Regions from separate parts of the Homo sapiens genome. Here regions 2, 3 and 4 are each linked to region 1. The links come from fine-mapping of genetic effects on gene expression. A gene starts in region 1. Each other region holds a variant in brackets. All regions are shown on one strand. Distances are from middle to middle.

The links.
Region 2: its variant is fine-mapped to the expression of GFPT2 in lung (TOPMed, PIP 0.98).
Region 3: its variant is fine-mapped to the expression of GFPT2 in whole blood (TOPMed, PIP 0.94).
Region 4: its variant is fine-mapped to the expression of GFPT2 in cerebellar hemisphere (GTEx, PIP above 0.99). The same link has a PIP of 0.9 or more in cerebellum.

The regions. Positions count from the first base shown.
Region 1 is chr5:180,350,230-180,355,377 of GRCh38, reverse strand. It overlaps GFPT2 (glutamine-fructose-6-phosphate transaminase 2), which reads left to right and starts at 2,042. Exons shown (of 19, transcript NM_005110.4): 1 at 2,042-2,167. The coding sequence starts at 2,161. RefSeq lists a silencer at 1,786-2,015 and an enhancer at 3,388-3,888.
Region 2 is chr5:180,412,714-180,417,861 of GRCh38, reverse strand. No RefSeq gene overlaps it. Among named protein-coding and RNA genes, the nearest start is that of GFPT2, 62 kb to the right of the region's middle. The variant T/C (reference allele first, on the strand shown) is at 3,026.
Region 3 is chr5:180,370,399-180,375,546 of GRCh38, reverse strand. No RefSeq gene overlaps it. Among named protein-coding and RNA genes, the nearest start is that of GFPT2, 20 kb to the right of the region's middle. RefSeq lists an enhancer at 4,775-5,148. The variant G/T (reference allele first, on the strand shown) is at 1,900.
Region 4 is chr5:180,420,685-180,425,832 of GRCh38, reverse strand. No RefSeq gene overlaps it. Among named protein-coding and RNA genes, the nearest start is that of GFPT2, 70 kb to the right of the region's middle. RefSeq lists an enhancer at 1,493-1,992. The variant T/C (reference allele first, on the strand shown) is at 2,031.

The DNA.
Region 1 (5,148 bases):
AGCAGTTCTCCCACCTCAGCCTCCCAAAGTGCTGGGATGACAGACCCAAGCCACTGTACCAGGCCAAGTTCATCTTTTCTGCTGGTTTCCCTCATGTGCTGGAGCAGGTCATCAACGTCCCAGCCTGGGCCATATGCTGACCTCTGAACCACTGCCCAGGCTGTGTGGCCAGGCCCAGGCCATCAACCTCCCAGATGACTCTCAGAGGGTTCTCAAAGCAGGAGTGATGCTAGGCCGGCAGCTGCTACAGACACATCCCCATGGGTGGTAGTGTGCACTCATGCCGTTCCTCACCGTGGACCTGTGACTCCTCCAGGAGGATAAAGGACAGATTTGGACCCTGCTAAGACCCCAGGGCTCCTGGGGTCTTGGTGCTATCAGAGGGCCTGTTGACATCACCCTGTCCCCGCCTCAGTTACAACAGTGGAGGCCAGTCTGGGCCAAACAACCTGATCTCCACATTCAAGTTCTAGCCCTCATCCAGGGGACCTTTGCACTGCCTGCTGCTCCCTCCTTCCTGGCTTCGCTAGGCTCTGGACCACCTGCACCAGCGCAGCCCTGCCCAGTCCCAGGCAGAGCCTGGCACCCTCTCCACCGCTGGCCCAGCCCCCTCCTTGTATCCTACCTGGAATTTTTAGCTCTCTGTGTAACCACGAGCTTAGTGTCTGCTTCCCCTTCACTTGTAAGTGCCAGGAGGGCAGGGCCAGATCTGTTCTCATTCATCAATAAGTCTCTTGCACCTGCACCCTGACAGGTGTGAAGTGGGTTCTTAGGAATGAGAGAAGGAAGGAAGGAAAGCGACCCTGCATAGTGGAGGGTTGGGGGCAAACGCTGCGGCTCCTGAATCGCTCTGAGATTTCCCAACAACAGGACTCACCCAAGCCCCCTCCTTCGCTGTCGTGGAGCCTCAGTTTTCCCAACCCTCCAATGGCACAACCTCCTTCCCCCAGGGCTTGCAGAGTCGCGGTGAAACTAGGGAGGGATTATGTTAGAAAAATGCTCTAGACGAGATGTAAAAATCTTTTTTTTTTTACACGACTGAGGAGGATCCGTTTAGAATTTCAGGATTTTTTTAAGAAAAAAAAAAACTTCAAAGTGCGCAAACGTTGGGCCGGTTCTCGTGACCTTCCTCGGGAGACGAGGGGCCCAGAGTGCAGGGGGAACGGGAGGGACGGCCGGGAACCAGGGCGGAGAAACGCGGGCCTTGGTGCCTCACTGGGGGGTCGGATTCCGACCCCAGGCGTAGGAACCCCCGGGTCCCTCGCGGGCCTGCAGCGCGAGGCAGATCTGGGGAGGGGGCAGCTCGGCGCGGGTGGGGTCGGGGCTTCCTGGGGCGCCTCCAGCTTCGTTCACAACCTGCGGAACCCTCGCCTTCAAGCTCGGGCTCCGCGGCAAATCCCAGGGTCGAATTCTGCCACCGCCGCGGCGTCCGGTTTTGGCAGAGTCCTTGTCTGCCTCCGGGAGCCTCGGTTTTCTCGTCTCTCCGCCAAGCCCGGGCGTTCTCTCCACGCAGGGTGAGGGCCAGGCTTAGAGGTCTGCGGAGCTCTGAAACAAGCCTGTCACTCAGATGGGAGCGCGGCAGGAACAGCGGCTCACGCGGGTTTCCGGAGCGCGCGAGTGATGCCGGACCCCTCGCTCTGCCCCTTACGCGGCCCGTCTGACTTCTCAGCACCCCGTGGGAGGGAGCTTCCCTGGGTAGCCCCGTTTCACAGACGGGAAAGCGGAGGCACAGCGCGATCGGGCCCTGCCCGGCTTCCACGCCTACTCTGGTTGAGTCGGGGTCTGAACTCGGGCCGTTGGTTGCCCTAAGCCCCGCTCCGGGATCTGGCGCCCGGCGCCCCAGCCTTACACGCCCGACCCGCGCCTGGGAGCCGCCCCTCGGCCCCCCTCCCTGGCTCCTGGGGGCCGGGTCCCGTCGTTGTCACGACAACCGGGGGCCAATGGGAGCAGGCGGGCGGGGGAAGCCCCGCCCCTTCCCCGCCCCCTTCCCCGCCCTCTCGGAGGGCTCCGGGTTATAAGGGCTGGAGGCCGAGCGGACGGGAGCTGGAGCCCGCGGAGCCCACGGAGCCCACGGAGCCCACGGAGGAGCCCACGGAGGAGCCCCAGCGTCCGAACGGGCAGACCCCCTCGAGCCGCGAAGGAGCCCGAGAAGCAGCCACGATGTGCGGTGAGTGCCGCGCCCGCCCGAGCCGCCTCCTCCACGCCGTCCGCGGGTCCCGGCGCCGCAGCCTCTCCGCGCCTCCGCCCGCAAGCAGGCGCCGAGGACCTGGCTGGGGGCGCCGATCTGCCCCGGGCCCCTACCGAGGGGCTGTCGTCGGCCGGGCCTGGCTGCCCCTCACCCGCGTTCCCCGAGTGGCCGTCTCGGAGGTGTGGGTGGGGGATGCCCAACCCGACTCCTGGTCTCGGACACAGTGAGGGGGACCGAGGCCCGGTCCCCACGGAGGGGAGGGACCTGGTCCGGTCCGGCCTGGACCCCGTAACAGAGGGGTCCCCACCCCATGCCGACCGAGGTCGCTCTCCTCCACGTCTCCCAGTCGCCCACAAAGGCGGCCACGCGCAGGCCGGCGCATCCCGAGTGCGGGGCGCCCATCCCGACTCAGCCCGCCGCGCCCACCGAGGAGAGGAGAGGCGACCCCGCCCCGCCGTCCCCGCAGCCCGCCCGGTCGCCCCCGCTGCGTCAGTGCCTCAGGCAGGGCCTGCGCGTCCTCCTCGCGACCCCAAAGGAACGTCTGGTCCCTAGAAGGGTCGCTGCCGCGTTACCGCCTCTTTGCGCGGGGAAGAGGCAGTCACTGCCCGAACCTCGGCCCGAAGCCACGAGAGGGAGTCCGGGGCGGGGAGCGGGGCCGGGCGTCCGATTCCCGCGGCGCTCCCGCGCTGTCCCGCGTGGCTGCGGGACCGTGGGGAGGGCGGCCGCGGCCCGGAGCGCACATCTGCAATTCTTTACTCTCCTGGCTGGGCCGCCTCCGCTGGCCGGGAGAGAGCCGGGAACTTCTGCTGGGACAAAAGGTCACTGTGCTCTTTTTTTTTTTTTTTTTTTTCCTTGAGTAGGATTCGGTTACCCATTCCAGCCTCCTGTGGCTGGAGGACCTGGAGGAACTTTCGAAGCCATGAAAGGCCTCTCTCTGACTTTGCTGAGGGCCGGGGTGGGGTGCGCCCGCGGTGAGCCCTGGCCGAGGTCTGTGCAGGCCTCTTGTCTCGGAGGCCAGCTGCTCGGCAGAAGGGAACGACCTACGGCGGAGCGGGCAGCGTGCTTCGGGATGCCGCCTCACCCAGGCTGAACAGGCATCCGTGGAAATTCCTGAACCCTCAGCTAAAATCTCGTGCTCCCAGACGCCATTCTCCATGTGTAGAGCCACCTTTGGGTGTTTCTGGGGGCAGAGATGAGGCAAAGGTGGTAGTTTTGCCAGATGTCCAAGCCCTGATGTTCCACACCTCTCAGTGTAGCATTCAAGACCCTTGGCCAAAACTGGTGGCCTTGGGGCCAGACTTGTGCAGGAGACCCTTGAACCAGGAGGGTCTGCCCACAGCACCAGAGGCTCCCCTTCCCCTTCCTTTCAGATGCTCCTCTGCCCCCACTGCCACCCCTGCCTGTCATCCTCCTTCCTACTGGCATCTTGCTTTTTCCCAAGTCTCTCTGAGCTTTGGGGGGGCTCTACCTCCTCCAGCTCACAAAATCACAAGTGTTTTTGTTCTGCTTCTTAAAGGGACACACACGCGTTGTCTCCTAGGGAAAGGTTGAGCTTTGGGGTGTGACCACCTGTATCTTCAGATTTTCTGGTACTGACTTGTGGTTGTATGTGAGAAGGAGCTTGAGGTCCCCAAAGGACACCCAGGGCTCAGGAGTGGCTGCGGTCCATGGGGGTGCCCACTCGGAGCCAGAATCAAAGAGTGCGTGCTGGCTTAGGTGCCTTCTCAGAATTCCCAGATTTGCTGATTTGGGGCTGGGGGCAGGGTGGGGGAAGTGGGGAGGGCACAGCTCAGCAGGAAGTCGTGGAATCCCTGCATGGGAAAGTTATTTCCTTTTCAAGAACATCAGGAGAAAGTTTCAACTTGGTGCTAACGTGTCCTTAACATCTCTCTGACACTTGCTTAAGTATCCTGTGCAGAGGGGAAGCCATTCCTGGCTCAGAGCAGGCAGCAGCAGCTGGCTAGAATTGAATACATTGGTCTGTTTGGGGGGGATGATGGTCTGAGTATGTATGACAAGTGATACTGATTTTCCTTTTATGGTTGTTTTCTTTTGGCATGAATTCATTTAAATTTTTGAAAATTTAATCAAATTCTGCAGAAGAAAAAGTAGTGATTATGCTATTAGTACAAGGATACTGCAAGAATCGTGAAGATGCTCCTAGAAAGAACCAGATAAGCTCTTCACTTTACGCTGGGGAAGCTGAGGCCCTGCGAAGTCTGTGCGCACCTGGCGTCTGAGCAGGCCTCGGGTCTCAGATCTCCTGGGCCGTTCCCTCAGGGGCGGAGACCTAAGGCCCTTCCTTATCACTTGGCTGATGACACTGCTGAGATTATGTCTTGCTGTCCTTTATCCTGCTGCTTCTCTCATGGGAAGCCAGGACTCGGCAGTAGTTGATCCTCTACAAACAGCAGATGATTCTCAAAAACTTTCAGTGCACTGAGAATTTAGCTGAAATGACACTTTGGTTTTATTGACATCTGAAAGTTGCTGGCATTTTGCTGACTTTCTGCGACAGAAAATTTACAATATTTCCTCCCTGTCTCTCTCCTTTCCTTCTCTGCTTCCTTTTTCATTCAGCCACTAGTGGAAATGCCCAGTGTTTTCCAGGCCCTGGGGGACTCGAAGATCTCATGGGTGTGGTCCTCCCCTCAAAGAAGGGGCAGGTGAGCCGCAGGGCTAGTCCAGAGACTGGTCACCAGCAGGGACGGGATGCCGATCAGGGCAGTGCTGCTGTGGAGGGAGGACCTTGAGCACGGGCTACAGCCTGGTAGAGTACTGGCCGAACAGGGAAGACAGACATCTTTTTGTTTGGTGCACAGGGTTTAAACCTTTTCCTCTATTAGTTACCAAAGTACAAAATTGGGAGATTTCACATAAGTAGGTGGGAGTTTTGGCTTCTCTTGACAAAATCTGAAGATGAGCAACCTGGAGTCCTTATTTCCAAATAGGGCCTGGGT
Region 2 (5,148 bases), 62 kb before region 1:
TTACCTTCTTTTCAAGGCCTGTTTCCCTGCCTCCATAACTGTTGTGGGTATTGACGGCCAAGCTTCAAAACCCCTGAAAACTCCCCCACTCTTGTGCCAACTTGGACAACACTCTTTTATGCACTCTTTTTTAGTTATCCCCACCTGCCCAGTTCCCTTATCAGGCCGAGATATTTTAACCAAATTGTATGCTTCCCTGACTATTCCTGGATTACAGCCGCATCTCATTGCCGCCCTTCTCCCCAACCCAAAGCCTCCTTCGCATCTTCCTCTCATATCCCCCAACCTTAACCCACAAGTATGGGACATCTCTACTCCTTCCCTGGCAACTGATCACATGCCCATTACCATCCCATTAAAACCTAATCACCCTCACCCCGCTCAACGCCCATATCCCATCCCACAGCATGCTTTAAAAGGATTAAAGCCTGTTACCACTCGCCTGCTACAGCATGGGCTTCTAAAACCTATAAACTCTCCTTACAATTCCCCCATTTTACCTGTCCAAAAACTGGATAAGTCTTACAGATTAGTTCAGGATCTGCGTCCTATCAACCAAATTGTTTTGCCATCCACCCTGTGGTGCCCAACCCGTACACTCTTTTGTCCTCAATCCGTTCCTCCACAATTCACTATTCTGTTCTCCACCTTAAAGATGCTTTTTTCACTATTCCCCTGCACCCCTCGTCCCAGCCTCTCTTTGCTTTCACTTAGACTGACCCTGACACCCATTAGGCTCAGCAAATTACCAAGGCTGTACTGCTGCAAAGCTTCACAGACAGCCCCCATTACTTCAATCAAGCCCAAATTTCTTCCTCATCTGTTACTTATCTCGGCATAATTCTCACAAAAACACACGTGCTTTCCCTGCCAATCGTGTCCGACTGATCTCTCAAACCCCAGCACCTTCTACAAAACAACAACTCCTTTCCTTCCTAGGCATGGTTAGCGTGGTCAGAATTCTTACACAAGAGCCAGGACCACACTCTGTAGCCTTTCTGTCCAAACAACTTGACCTTACTGTTTTAGCCTAGCCCTCATGTCTGCGTGCAGCGGCTGCTGCTGCTTTAATACTTTTAGAGGCCCTCAAAATCACAAACTTTATCAGTCCTCCAGGCCCAAGTTGACTCGTTAGCTGCAGTTGTCCTCCAAAACCGCCGAGGCCTTGACTGACTTACTGCTGAGAAAGGAGGACTCTGCATATTCTTAAATGAGGAGTGTTGTTTTTACCTAAATCAATCTGGCCTGGTGTATGACAACATAAAAAAACTCAAGGATAGAGCCCAAAAACTTGCCAACCAAGCAAGTAATTATGCTGAACCCCCTTGGGCACTCTCTAATTGGATGTCCTGGGTCCTCCCAATTCTTAGTCCTTTAATACCCATTTTTCTCCTCCTTTTATTTGGACCTTGTATCTTCCGTTTAGCTTCTCAATTCATCCAAAACCGTATCCAGGCCATCACCAATCATTCTATACGACAAACGTTTCTTCTAACATCCCCACAATGTCACCCCTTACCACAAGACCTCCCTTCAGCTTAATCTCTCCCACTCTAGGTTCCCACGCCGCCCCTAATCCCGCTCGAAGCAGCCCTGAGAAACATCGCCCATTCTCTCTCCATACCACCCCCCAAAAATTTTCGCCGCTCCAACACTTCAACACTATTTTGTTTTATTTGTCTTATTAATATAAGAAGGCAGGAATGTCAGGCCTCTGAGCCCAGGCCAGGCCATCGCATCCCCTGTGACTTGCAGGTATACATCCAGATGGCCTGAAGTAACTGAAGATCCACAAAAGAAGTAAAAACAGCCTTAACTGATGACATTCCACCATTGTGATTTGTTCCTGCCCCACCCTAACTGATCAATGTACTTTGTAATCTCCCCCACCCTTAAGAAGGTACTTTGTAGTCTCCCCCACCCTTAAGAAGGTTCTTTGTAATTCTCCCCACCCTTGAGAATGTACTTGGTGAGATCCACCCCTGCCCACCAGAGAACAACCCCCTTTGACTGTAATTTTCCATTACCTTCCCAAATCCTATAAAATGGCCCCACCCCTATCTCCCTTCGCTGACTCTCTTTTCGGACTCAGCCCACCTGCACCCAGGTGAAATAAACAGCTTTATTGCTCACACAAAGCCTGTTTGGTGGTCTCTTCACACGGACGTGTATGAAAGTCAGGAGTTCGAGACCAGCCTGGCCAACATGGTGAAACTCCGTCTCTACTAAAAATACAAAAATTAGCTGGGCGTGGTGGCGGGCACCTATAATCTCAGCTACTTGAGAGGCTGAGGCAGGAGAATTGCTGGAATCTAGGAGGCAGAGGTTTCAGTGAGCCGAGATCCCACCATCTCATTCCGGCTCGGGCGAGAACAGTGAGACTCCATCTCAAACAAAAACAAAAACAAAAACAAAAACAGAAATCCGCAGTTATTTGAATGGATGTTTCCATATTTATAGTGTGTCCTTTTTTTCTATTTTAAAGATATATTTCTTTATCATTAGTTTCAGTACATGATATGTGTGGGCATGGATTTCTTTAAGTTTATCCTGTTTGTGTTTTACTTAGCTTCTTACATTTGTAAGTTTATGGGTGTTTTTTTTTTTTGCCAAATTTGGGGAGTTTTCAGTCATTCTTTTTCAAAAATTTTTTCACACTCCTTTTCATTATTTCACCTTTTCTTTTGGAATTATGATGACATGAATATTGGGCCCTTTGATATATCTCACAGGCTTGAGGCTGTGTTCATTTTTTTCTACATTTTTGTTCTCTGTAGTCATCCAGTCATTTTAGTAATTTAGTTTGCTCTGTCTTCAAGTTCAGTAATTTTCTTCCCCAGTCTATTATTATTACTACAGACAGGGTCTTCCTCTGTCACCCAGGCTGAGTACAGTGGCCCAATCATAGCTCACTGCAGCCTTGAACTCCTGGGCTGGAGTGAGCCTCCCACCTCAGCCTCCCAAGTGGCTAGGACTACAGGTGCACACCATCACATCTGGCTAATTTTTAAATTTTTTGTAGACA[T/C]GAGGTCTTACTATGTTGCCCAGGCTGCTCTCAAATTCCTGGCCTCAAGAGATCCTCCTGCTTCAGTCTCCCAAAGCACTGGGATTATAAGTGTGAGCCACCACACCAGGCCTGGTTATAGTTTTTTTAAGTTTTAAAATTCCCATTGGGTTCTTTTTAATATCTTCTATTTCTCTGCTAAAAATTGCTATCTTTCCACTCCTTTCAAAGGGTTGTTTGCCCTAACTTCCTGGAACATGACTGTGATAGTTGCTTTAAAATCTTCTTCTAATAGCATCTGTGTCATCTCTGGGTTGGCATCTGTTGACTGTCTTTTCCCTTGAGAGTTGTCAAGATTTGCCCAGTTCTTCATATATTGAGCACTCTTGTGTCCTGGACATTTTGAATATTACATTCTGGAACTCTAAGTCTCGTTTAGCTCTAATGGAGAATGTTGAGATTTGTTTGCTTGTTTTAGCAATCAGGTGCTTCCCTGCTTTCTGAGTACTGTGATTCCAATCTCAGTTTACTTTTCAAAGCCTTCGCAGTGGTATTTATATTTGTCCTGCCTGTGCGGCACCCAGTGGCCAATCTGGGACCTGAATGGTGGTCTCCCCTGTAGCTTAGCTCTCAAAGCCATCAATCTGACGTTTAGGGTCAGATGCATACATGCACATGGCCAGCTAAGAGGTGAGTGCAAGAGTTCAGACAAAATTGTATATGTATCAGATGGATTTTTTAAAGCTTCTTCCTCTCTGTCATCTCTCCAACACGTTTTTGCATCCAGTCACCCCACCAACCCCAAAACTTCCTGAGTTTCTTTTCTTTTTTTTTTTTTTTGAGACGGAATCTTGCTCTGTCACCCAGGCTGGAGTGCAATGGCAGGATCTTGCCTTACTGCAACCTCCGCCTCCCGGATTCAAGCGATTCTCCTGCCTCAGCCTCCCAAGTAGCTGGGATTACAGGTGCCTGCCACCACGCTCAGCTAATTTTTTGTATTTTTAGTAGAGACGGGGTTTCACCATGTTGGCCATGGCTGGTCTTGAACTCTTGACCTCAGGCAATCCACCCGCCTCGGCCTCCCAAAGTGCTGGGATTACAGGCATGAGCCACCGTGCCCCGCCCCAAACTTCCTGAGTTTCTAACTCGAATGTTGGGACTTTCGTTTTCCAGCTCTGTCATGTACTTCTTCCCACTGTGTCTGCCTGTGGAGCCAGGCAGTGTGAGAACACAGAAAACAAAAGCTGTGGGGAGTCCCCCTATCCTCTTGGGACCACAGCTGTCTGGTTAGGAAGGGTTTTCCTCCCTCAGAGTTTCAGGTACCTTCCAGAGGCTACTGTTGCTGCAACGCTGTGAGACTGCCTGGAGGGCAGGGTGGAAGAGATGGAAGCAAGTAGATTTCCCCGACTCTCTGTTATACCTAGGGGCCCCCGTCTCCACTCTTTGCATCAAGGGCTTCTCTTAGAGCTCTTTCTGTTCACATCCAGCACTTACTTCTGGGCTTCAGGCAGCCTGTGAGTCTAGGCCAGGCAATACCAAAGGGAAACAAAAGAAGAGAGGAGTCTCAGGCTGGCTCAATGGCATTAGTGATCTGTTTTTCTGCCCAATTCCTATTATTTTTAAAAATAAACTTTTTTTTTTTTTTTTTTTTTTTTTGAGATGGAGTCTCGCTCAGCCGCCCAGGCTGGAGTACAGTGGCGCAATCTCGGCTCACTACAGCCTCCATCTCCGGGATTCAAGCGATTCTCCCATCTCAGCCTCCCGAGTAGCTGGGATTACAGGTGCATGCCACCATCATGCCCAGCTAATTTTTGTATTTTAGTAGCGATGGGGTTTCACCATGTTGGCCGGGCTAATCTTGAACTCCCTGACCTCAGGTGACCCGCCTGCCTCGGCCTCCCAAAGTGCTAGGATTACAGGCAAGAACCACGGCACCCGGCTAAAAATAGACTATTTTTCAAGAGAAGTTTTAGGCTCACAGCAAAATTGAATAGAAAGTACAGAGAATTCCTATATATCCCCTGCACCATTGCCACCCACCCCTCTGCACAGCTCCTCTGCTATTAACATCTTTCTTTTCTTTTTCTTTTTTTTTGTTGTTGTTGAGACGGAGTCTCGCTCTGTCGCCCAGGCTGGAGCACAGT
Region 3 (5,148 bases), 20 kb before region 1:
ATTCAGTCAGCCCACAGTCATTGACATGGACACACCCTATGGTCCCGCTGGATGTGATGTGCCGGCTGGAGAGGAGGGAGAGATGCTATCGGTCTGCGGGTTGGCTGATGGAAGCTTTGAAGGAACATGGCTGAAATGTTGGAATGTCCTGGCACACTGAGTCTGGAGACCTAGGGACGTAGGCATTTGGGACACTTCCTCCACTGTGGATGCCCTTGAGTGGGTATTCACGGAAGCTGCCAATATCATCATGCTGTGCCCATTACAAGTGCCCCAGCCACACGACTTGCCTCCAGACCACCTGGCCCCCAAATTTCCAATCTCATTCTTTCCGGATCCTGCCCAGGCAATCAAGCTGTTTGCCACTGCCCCTGAGTCTGGGTATTTGTAGTGAGATTTTCACCCCAGGTCTCCCAGCAAAGCAAAGGCTTGGGCAGCCATGTTCTGACCTGTTGTTTCTCTCCTATGCCGTGTTAAAAACATGCTATCACATGTGAAAAACATGGGTGGTGGCTAACATTTTCGGTTTCCAGTAGGACCAAACCAAGGAGCCAACCCCACCCCACAATGACACTACGGCTCAGGGTTTAGCAAACTATGAACCCGATTTGCTCTGCCATCTGCTTTTGTAAACAAAGTTTTATTGGGACACAGCCACACTCATTCGCGTATGGATTGTCCACGGCCACAGCCAAGCTGAGTTGCAACAAAGATGATATGGCTCACAAAACTTCAGTATTTACTATCCGATACTTTCTGGAAAAAGTCGCCAACCCTGCTGTTGCTATCAGGAATTACTGTACCCCTCTTTGGTGACATAAAGTTTTACCTGAATGAACTGGGTGCTGAGGAGAGAAGGGGTGAGCTGTTTTGGAGATCTTCCATCTACCTTTCCTGACCCACCCTCCACTTTTCTCCATCCTGTTCTGTATTCCAGGAGGCTGGTTATGGGTCACATGGAAAGGGCTCTTTTTTCTTGTCACTTCGAGTGGGGTTCAGCCCAAGGGAGGTGTTTAGCAGAAGACTGGAGGGAGAGAGAAGAAGAAAATCCTTCCTGCAGGGCCTCCTGCGTCCCACAGCCGAAGGTCACAGCTTCTATCAGACAAACTCCACACAGCCCTTTCAGCCTCAGAGTTCCAGAAACTTCTCTCTCCCATTGCTCCTTCTGGCCTAGAAACAGTAACGGTTCCCTGCTGTTACTAGCACCAGAGTACTGCCTGTGTTCTCCTCACACCCTGTCCTCACCTTCACACACCTTCTACTAACATCTTCTCAAACTACCTATTTTGAGGGTGCCACCTGTATCCTGCAGGAATATAAAATGTAACTGCTTATTTTTTTCTATAACTATTTTTTTTCGGAGATAAGAGTCTCACTCTGTTGCCCAGGCTCAAGGGCAGTGGCTTGATCATAACTCATTGCAACCTCAAACTCCTAACTGAAGCAATTCTCCTGCCTCAGTCTCCTGAGTAGCTGGGACTACAGGCATGTGCCACCATGCCCAGCTCATTTTTCATTTTTGTAGAAATGGGATCTTGCTGTGTTGCCCAGGATGATCTCAAACTCCCAGGCTCAAGTGATTCTCCTGCCTCGGCCTCCCAATGTGCTGAGATTACGGGCATGAGCCAGCATAACTAAGCCTACAACTAAGTTTAATTTGAATTTTGTGCCCCATTCCACCAGGATGGAGTTCAATTTCAGTTTTCTGGTTATCTCCATTAGTTCAGGGTTTCACACACACATGCGTCACACATATCTGCCCCTGCCTTCTCTGGGATTTCGTGAGAATAAAGTGGCCTCACAACTGATTTGTGGGGTACAGTCCCAGCTTACTTCTGTTGTCTTGGCATGGTTACAAACAACACACCTCTTTACTCTCAGAGTCCCTGGTTTAGACAG[G/T]AAATTATGCGGTGACCCTATGTAGAAAGCACTAGGTTGGTCTGGGGGACGATCTTGTTCTCTGTTCGTAATATCCAGCTGGCACCAGCCACAATGGCCCTTATCTAGTCTGGCCCTGAGTTTTCAGTCCTCAAAGTTTCCAGCAGCCTCCTCCTCCTCTCCTGACCACAGAGCCTGCCCCATTCTGTCCTCCTCAGCTTCTTCCGCCTCCTCGGCTCTAGGCACTTGGCATATATCAGTGAACAAAACAGAAAAGAAAAAAAAAAAAAAAGCCCTGCTTGCAAGGAGTTTTCTTCTTTTATATTTTCTAAAAGATGTTTTTAGGCTATGAACTTTCCTGTGAATACCACTGTGTATGCATCCCGCACCTTATAGGTTTTAATATACACGTTCTTACACAGTTTCAGTTCTTTTTTTTTTTTTTTTTTTTTTGAGTTGTAGTCTCGCTTTGTCGCCCAGGCTAGAGTGCAGTGGCGCGATCTCGGCTCACTGCAAGCTCCGCCTCCCGGGTTCACACCATTCTCCTGCCTCAGCCTCCCGAGTAGCTGGGACTACAGGCGCCCTTCACCACGCCCGGCTAATTTTTTGTATTTTTAGTAGGACGGGGTTTCACCACATTAGCCAGGATGGTGTCCATCTCCTGACCTCATGATCCGTCCACCTCGGCCTCCCAGAGTCCTGGGATTACAGGCATGAGCCACCGCGCCTGGCCCACAGTTTCAGTTCTAATGTCCTCTTCTGCTCTAGGCTTATTTTTTTTTCTTTTTTCTTTTTTTTTTTTTTTTGGTTTTTTTTTTTTTTTTTTTGAGACAGAGTTTTGCTCTTGTTGCCCAGGCTGGAAAGCAGTGGCATGATCTCGGCTCACTCCAAGTTCCGTCTCCTGGGTTCAAGTGATTCTCCTGCCTCAGCCTCCTGAGTAGCTGGGACTACAGGCACACGCCACCACGCCCAGCTAATTTTGTATTTTTAGTAGAGACGGGGTTTCACCATGTTGGCCAGGATGGTCTCGATTTCTTGACCTCGTGATCCACCTGCCTCGGCCTCCCAAAGTGCTGGGATTACAGGCGTGAGCCACCACGCCTGGCAGAGATTTTTTTTTTTTAATTATCCTCTTATTGTAACCAGAAAAATATTTTTGCTTGATTTCTATTTTTTTTGAAAATACTTAAATTTACTATAGAATTTTATGAACATTCCTGTTACCTTCTCTTATGTTATCCTCACAAGTTATTGAGCTGGAGTATAATTCCCATTTCACATGTGAGTCCACATGTCTGGAGAGAGCTGAGCTAGCAATGAAGAGCCTTGGGATCAGAGCAGAGATCCAAACCCTAACCCAGCAGGCTCAAAGCAGCCCTGTTCCCTGCCATGAGAGGGTTCCAGGTATGGAGGCCATGCCTGGGAGGCCACAGAAATGGAGCTCTCTGGGGGAAGCGCCTGCTGGGCAGTTGCTTCTCAGCCCAGGCCTGAGCTTTGCACCGTCTCAGTGGTTGGTAGCGGAGGAATGAGGCTGTGCAGTCGCCCTCTCAGGCCCAGTAAGACACCTGATTGCCTCTGCCCAACCCCACTCCTCAGATCCCAGGGGCAGCCCTGGCCCCCCAGCTTGTCCCTTCCTCTAGGAGGGAGGTTACTAAGGCCCTGCTCGCCCAGCCAGGGTCCTCCCAGAGGGAGCTGGAAACAGGATGGAAGCTTGGCTAAGGCCTGGTGATGGAAGCTGCGGCTTGGCCTGCAAGGGGGCACCCCAGGGGCACTGGGCAGGGTCTGGGCGTCAGGCAAGTAGCCAGGTTGAATTAGGTGACTGCTGTCAACGGAGCAGTCAGGAAGGCTTCTCTGAAGTGGGGACAAGAGCCACCTGGGAAGGGAGGAAGCCTTCAGGCCGGGGAAACAGCAACCGCCAAGGCCTGGAAGAGGAGCAGCAGTTTCTTGTGCTATCCACTTTCCCTGCCATTAGAGAATGGAGCTCACATACCACTCGTGGCCCTGGAGATCACACATGCCCGGCCTCCAGCTCCCCCTTTGCGTGCGCACACACACACGCAAAACCTCTCACACCACGACTCCAGGATACGGTGGGCCCCTCTGAAAGCATCCCTAAGTGGGCCGCAGGCAAGTTTAGGGGGTGCCGGAGCTCATGCCAAAGCCCGGAGTGCAGTCCCACCTGAAGGCAGGAGTCCGCACCAGCTGGTGGCCTGGAGCTCATGCCAAAGCCCGGAGTGCAGCTCCACCTGAAGGCAGGAGTCCGCACCAGCTGGTGGCCACCTCGAGGGCCCTTGACCTGCCGGATGATCCACACAAGGCGCCCAGCCTCTCGGGCCCCTCTCCCATCTGTCCAGTGGGTGGATTGGTCCAAAGGCCTGAGACTCTCTGTAGCCCCACCACTGTCTGACTCACTCGCGATCTGAAAACAGGCAGCACACAGCTCATTTTCCTCATCCGATGACAAGACAATTTCCCAAAATCCCTTTTAGCTGGGAGGGGTGACAGAAAGGCCATCTGGCCAACACCCATCCTTGCAGCCAGTGATCATTTATTTCCCAGCTGTGTGTTCTGAAGAAAATAATGAAGGCTCTGAATGCCACCGCCAGGGTGGCTTTGCAGCTGTTCTTGGCAGTGACCCCGCTGCAGAACCCCCACTGACGGAGCGTCCTTCCCCAGCTTGAGCCGCACCCATCGGACTCCACCAGGGACACTTGAGTTTAGCTCACAGGGAACCAGAAGCAGCTGCCCCTCCCCATGGACAGCCTGCCCCTCCCTGAGCTGTGGCTCTGGGACCTTCTCTGGCCTGGCCCCTGCCCTGCCTGCAGGCTTCCTCACTGTCCTCTGAGCATGCACGCTGTGCCACGCAGTTTGCAGAGCCTGTTCTCTTCTGTCCTCATGACTGCCTGGGAGCTAGGCCTTCCCAGCCCCGTTTTACAGATGAGGAAATCAAGGCTCCAGGAGATGTGGGGGCTTGCCCAAAGTCACAGGCCAGCAGGAGCAGGCACCTGAGTGCAGATCAGGCCTCCTGGCACGGGTTCCTCTGCATCTTCCCCGTCCCCGCCCTCCACCTCTTCCCATCCAGGTCCCCCGACTCTGACCAGCCTCCAGCCCAGCTCCTTCTCTAAGCCCCAGATACATATCCAAGTGCCCATGTACCTCTCCACTGCAGAATGGGGTGTCCACTGGCACCTATCCAACCAGGCGCAACCATGTTCCTCACCTCCCCAGCCTGCTGCTGCCTTTGTTCTGAAAGCCAGCCTCGGCGCTCCT
Region 4 (5,148 bases), 70 kb before region 1:
CGCTACACTGCACTCCAGCCTGGGAGACAGCGCGAGACTCAGTTTCAAAATATATATAAAATATATATAATATTTACATTATAAGTAATATATACATTATATATAATATGTACATTATATATTATATATTATATATATTATATATATATATAGGCCGGGCACAGTGGCTCACGCTTGTAATCCCAGGGCTTTGGGAGGCTGAGGTGGGTGGATCACCTGAGGTCAGGAGGTCAAAAGCAGCCTGGCCAACAGTGAAACCTCGTCTCTACTAAAAATACAAAAATTAGCCAGGCGTGGTGGTCGGTGCCTGTAATCCCAGCTACTCGGGAGGCTGAGACAGGAGAATTGCTTGAACCTGGGCGGTGGAGGTTGCAGTGAGCTGAGATAGCACCATTACACTCCCACCTGGGCAACAGAGTGAGACTCCATCTCAAAAAAAAAAAAAAAAAGAAAAAAAAAAAAGAAAGAAAGAAAGACATATTGTCTATAAATTTGAAAGCCTAGATTAAATGCACAAATTCCTTGGAAGCCACAGACATTAAAAATGACTCAAGAAGAAACAGATAACTTAAGTAGCACTTTGTTTATTAAAGAAATTAAATTCGTAGTTACAAACTCACCCACAAAGAAAACTCCAGGCCCTGGTGCTTTCACTGGGGAATTCTACCAAACATTTAAATAAGAAATAATAACGATTTTACACAAACAAATCCATAAAATTGAAGTGAAGAGAATATTTCCCAGCTATTTCTATGAGGCTGCTATTATGCTGATATCAAAACCGAAGACAAGGCTGGGCATGGTGGCGGGCACCTGTAATCCCAGCTACTTGGGAGGCCGAGACAGGAGAATTGCTTGAACCCAGGAGGCAGAGCTTGCAGTGAGCCAAGATACTGCGACTGAACTCCAGCGCGGGAGACAGAGTGAGACTCCATCTCAAAATAATAATAATTATCATCATCCAAAGACATTACAAGAAAAGAAAATTAAGGACTAAAATCTCTAATGAATATAGATGAATTTTTTAAAGAAAAGTTTATAAAGATTAACTTATAAAGATTAATACATTATGACCTATAGGGGTTTATCTCAAGAAGGCAAGTTTGGCTTAGCATTCATTCAAAAATCGAATAAAATATGTCATGTTTAGTGGGTTGACTAGTGTCCCTCAAAAATGTATGTTGGCTGGGCGCAGTGGCTCACGCCTGTAATCCCAGCACTTTGGGAGGCTGAGGCAGGTGGATCACCCGAGGTCGGGAGTTCGAGACCAGCCTGACCAACATGGAGAAACCCCATCTCTACTAAAAATACAAAATTAGCTGGTGTAGTGGCACATGCCTATAATCCCAGCCTCCCGAGGGAGGCTGAGGCAGAAGAATTGCTTGAACCCAGGAGGTGCAGATTACAGTGGGCAGAGATTGTGCCATTGCACTCCAGCCTGGGCAACAAGAACGAGACTCTGTCTCAAAAAAAAAAAAAAAAAACAACTGTGTGTCAGCCGGGCACAGTGACTCATGTCTGTAATTCCAGCACTTTGGGAGCCTGAGGTGGGAGGCTCGCTTGAGCCCGGAGTTTGAGATGAGCCTGGGAAACATAGTAAGATGCTGCCTCTACAAAAAATTTAAAAATTAGCTGTGTGTAGTGGTATGCACCCGTGGTCTTGGCTACCTGGGAGGCTGAGGCAGGTGGATTGCCTGAGTCCAGGACTTTGAGGCTGCAGTGAGCTGTGATCGTGCCACTGCCCTTCAGCCTAGACAACAGAGCGAGGCCATGTCTCAAAAAAAAAAAAAAAAAAAAAAAGGTCATTTCCACCCAGAACCTCAGAATGTGACCTTATTTGGAAATAGTCTTTTTAGATGTAATTAGTTAAGGATCTCAGATGAAACTGTCCGGAATTTAGGGTGGTCCCTAAGTCCAATGACTGGTGTCCTTGTAAGGAGAGAAGTGACCACAGAGGCAAACAAGAAGGGCCGTGTGAAGGTGAAGGCAGACAGAGATCAGCGCTGCGCCACCATTACCCAGGGAAGGCC[T/C]GGGGCCACCAGACGCTGGAAACAGCAGGCAGGTTCTTCCCTGGAGCTTTGAGTGAGCATGGCCCAGCTGGCACCTTGATTTCAGATTTCTAGCCTCCATAACCATGAGAGAATCAATTTTTGTGTTTTAAAGACACCAAGTTTGTGGTAATCTGTTACCATAGGAAACTAGTACACCATATTAAGAAACTAAAAAAGAAAAATCATATAATCACCTCAATCAATTAAAGAAAAAGCATTTGACAAAATCCAACATCTACTCCTGATAAAAAACAAGTTTCAGCAAACTAGGGAGCTTCCTCAACCTGGTAAAGAGCGTATGGAAAACCTCCAGCTAACATAATATTAATACTGAAAGGCTAAATACCTTTTCCTACAACCAGGAATGTGGCAAAAATATTCACCCTCACCACCTCCACTCAGGATTGCACTGGAGGCTCTAGCCAGTGCAGTCAGGCATAAAAAAGAAATAAAAGTCATCCAAATTGGGAAAGAAGAAAAAAACAATGGTTTTATTCACAGATGGCATGATCCCCTATGGAGAAACTATGATGAAATCTACAAACAAAACAAAACAAAAAAAAACCCTACTAGAATTCATAACTGGGTTTAGCAAGATTGCAGAGTTCGAAATAAATATACAAAATTAATTATATTTCTACATATCAGGATTGAAAAATGAGATATTGAAGTTAAAGATAAACATCATTTAAAATAGCATTAAAATATGACAAATCTGAGAAAATATGTGAAAGGCCTGTGTATTCACACTACAAACCATATCTGAGAAAAATTAAAGACTATCTAAATAAATGGGGAGATATACTTCACTCATGTGCTGGAAGATTCTCTATTGCTAAGATGTTTGCTCTACCAAAGTTAATCTACAGATTCAGTGCCATCTCAGTCATAATCCCAGGAAGCTATTTAGTGAAAATTGACTAGGTGATTCTAAAATTCTTATGGAAATGTGAAGGACCTACAACAGCCAAGATAGCTTTTGAGAACAATGAAGGACTAACCCATACCAGATTTCAGGACTTTTAAACTTACAATGATCCAGACAGTGTGGTTATCAGCCTGAAGATACCATCTTTTCAGTTATTTGAGAATTTTTTCATATTTCATTTTAATTTTTTTTTTTTGAGATGGAGTTTCTGTCTTGTCACCCAGGCTGGAGTGCAATGGCACCATCTCGGCTCACTGCAACCTCTGCCTCCCAGGTTCAAGCAATTCTCCTGCCTCAGCCTCCCGAGTAGCCGGAAGTACAGGCGTGCCCACCACGCCTGGGTAATTTTTGTATTTTTAGTAGAGATGGGGTTTCTCCAGGTTGGTCAGGCTGGTCTCGAACTCCTGACCTCAGGTGATCCACCTGCCTTGGCCTCCCAAAGTGCTGGGATTACAGGCGTGAGCCACTGCGCCTGGCCTCCATTTTAATTTATCTATATGCTTCTGACATATATCTTTTTTATTTTATTTATTTATTTATTTAGACAGAGTCTCGCTCTGTTGCCAAGCTGGAGTGTAGTGGTGCCATCTCGGCTCACTACAACCTCCACCTCCCAGGTTCAAGTGATTCTCCTGCCTCAGCCTCCCGAGTAGCTCTCGATCTTTTGACTTCCTGATCTGCCTGCCTCAGCCTGCCAAAGTGCTGGGATTACAGATGTGAGCCACCGCGCCCAGCCTGTTTCTGATATGTATCTTTGCATGTTTTTTAGTGATCACACTAGGGATTGTGATTTGTATATACAACTTTTCACTGTCTGCTCAGAATCAACATTTTGACTTTAAATAGAATACAAAGACCTTCACCACACCCTCTCCTTTTACACCGTAGTTGTCTTATGTGTTGTATCTATTTGCATTAGGAGCCCCACCAGGTAATGCTATAGTTTATTTATTATTTATATGTTATTTATTATTTCTATTTTATTATTTATATATTATTTATTTATTACTTGGTATTTTACTTTAAGTTCCAGGATTACCATTTGACCCAGCGATCCCATTACTGGGTATATACCCAAAGGATTATAAATCATTCTGTTATGAAGACACTTGCACACATGTGTGTCAGGCCTCTGAGCCCAGGCTAAGCCATCATATCCCCTGTGACCGGCACCTATACATCCAGATGGCCTGAAGCAACTGAAGATCCACAAAAGAAGTGAAAATAGCCTTAACTGATGACATTCCACCATTGTGATTTGTTTCTGTCCCAACCTAACTGATCAATGTACTTGGTAATCTCCCCCACCCTTAAGAAGGTTCTTTGTAATTCTCCCCACCCTTGAGAATGTACTTTGTGAGATCCACCCCCTGCCTGCAAAACATTGCTCCTAACACCACCGCCTATCCCAAAACCTATAAGAACCATGATAATCCACCACCCTTTGCTGACCCTTTTCGGACTCAGCCCGCCTGCACCCAGGTGAAATAAACAGCCTTGTTGCTGACACAAAGCCTGTTTGGTGGTCTCTTCACACGGACGCATGAAACAATATGTTTACTGCAGCACTACTTATAGTTTTTTATTATTTCTTTATTTATTTTTTGAGACGGAGTCTCTCTCTGTTGCTCAGGCTGGAGTGCAGTGGTGCGATCTTGGCTCACTGCAACCTCCACCTCCTGGATTCAAGCGATTTTCCTGCCTCAGCCTCCCGCTGAGTGGTAGGCGCCCGCCACCACTCCTAGCAAAATTTTATTTATTTATTTTTATTTTTTAGTAGAGACAGGGTTTCGTCATGTTGGCCAGGCTGGTCTTGAACTCCTGACCTCAGGTGATCCACCTGTCTCGGCCTCCCAAAGTGCTGGGATTACAGGTGTGAGCCACCGTGCCTGGACACTTTTTTATTTTTAACATCAAACATGTTTTAAAGTATTTTAAAGGACCTAATAGAAGAATAGCCTATGTATTTACCCATACATAGGTAAATGTTCTTCTTCCTTTATTCCTCCTGTTTCAAGTTTCCTTTTTATATAATTCCCCTTCCGTCTCAAAAAAATTCCTCTAAAATCTTTGAAAGGTAGGGTACCAGTGACAAATTATCTTAGTTTCTCTTCCTCTGAGAATGTCTTTATTTCACCTCATTCCTGGAGAATATTTTTACTAGATCTG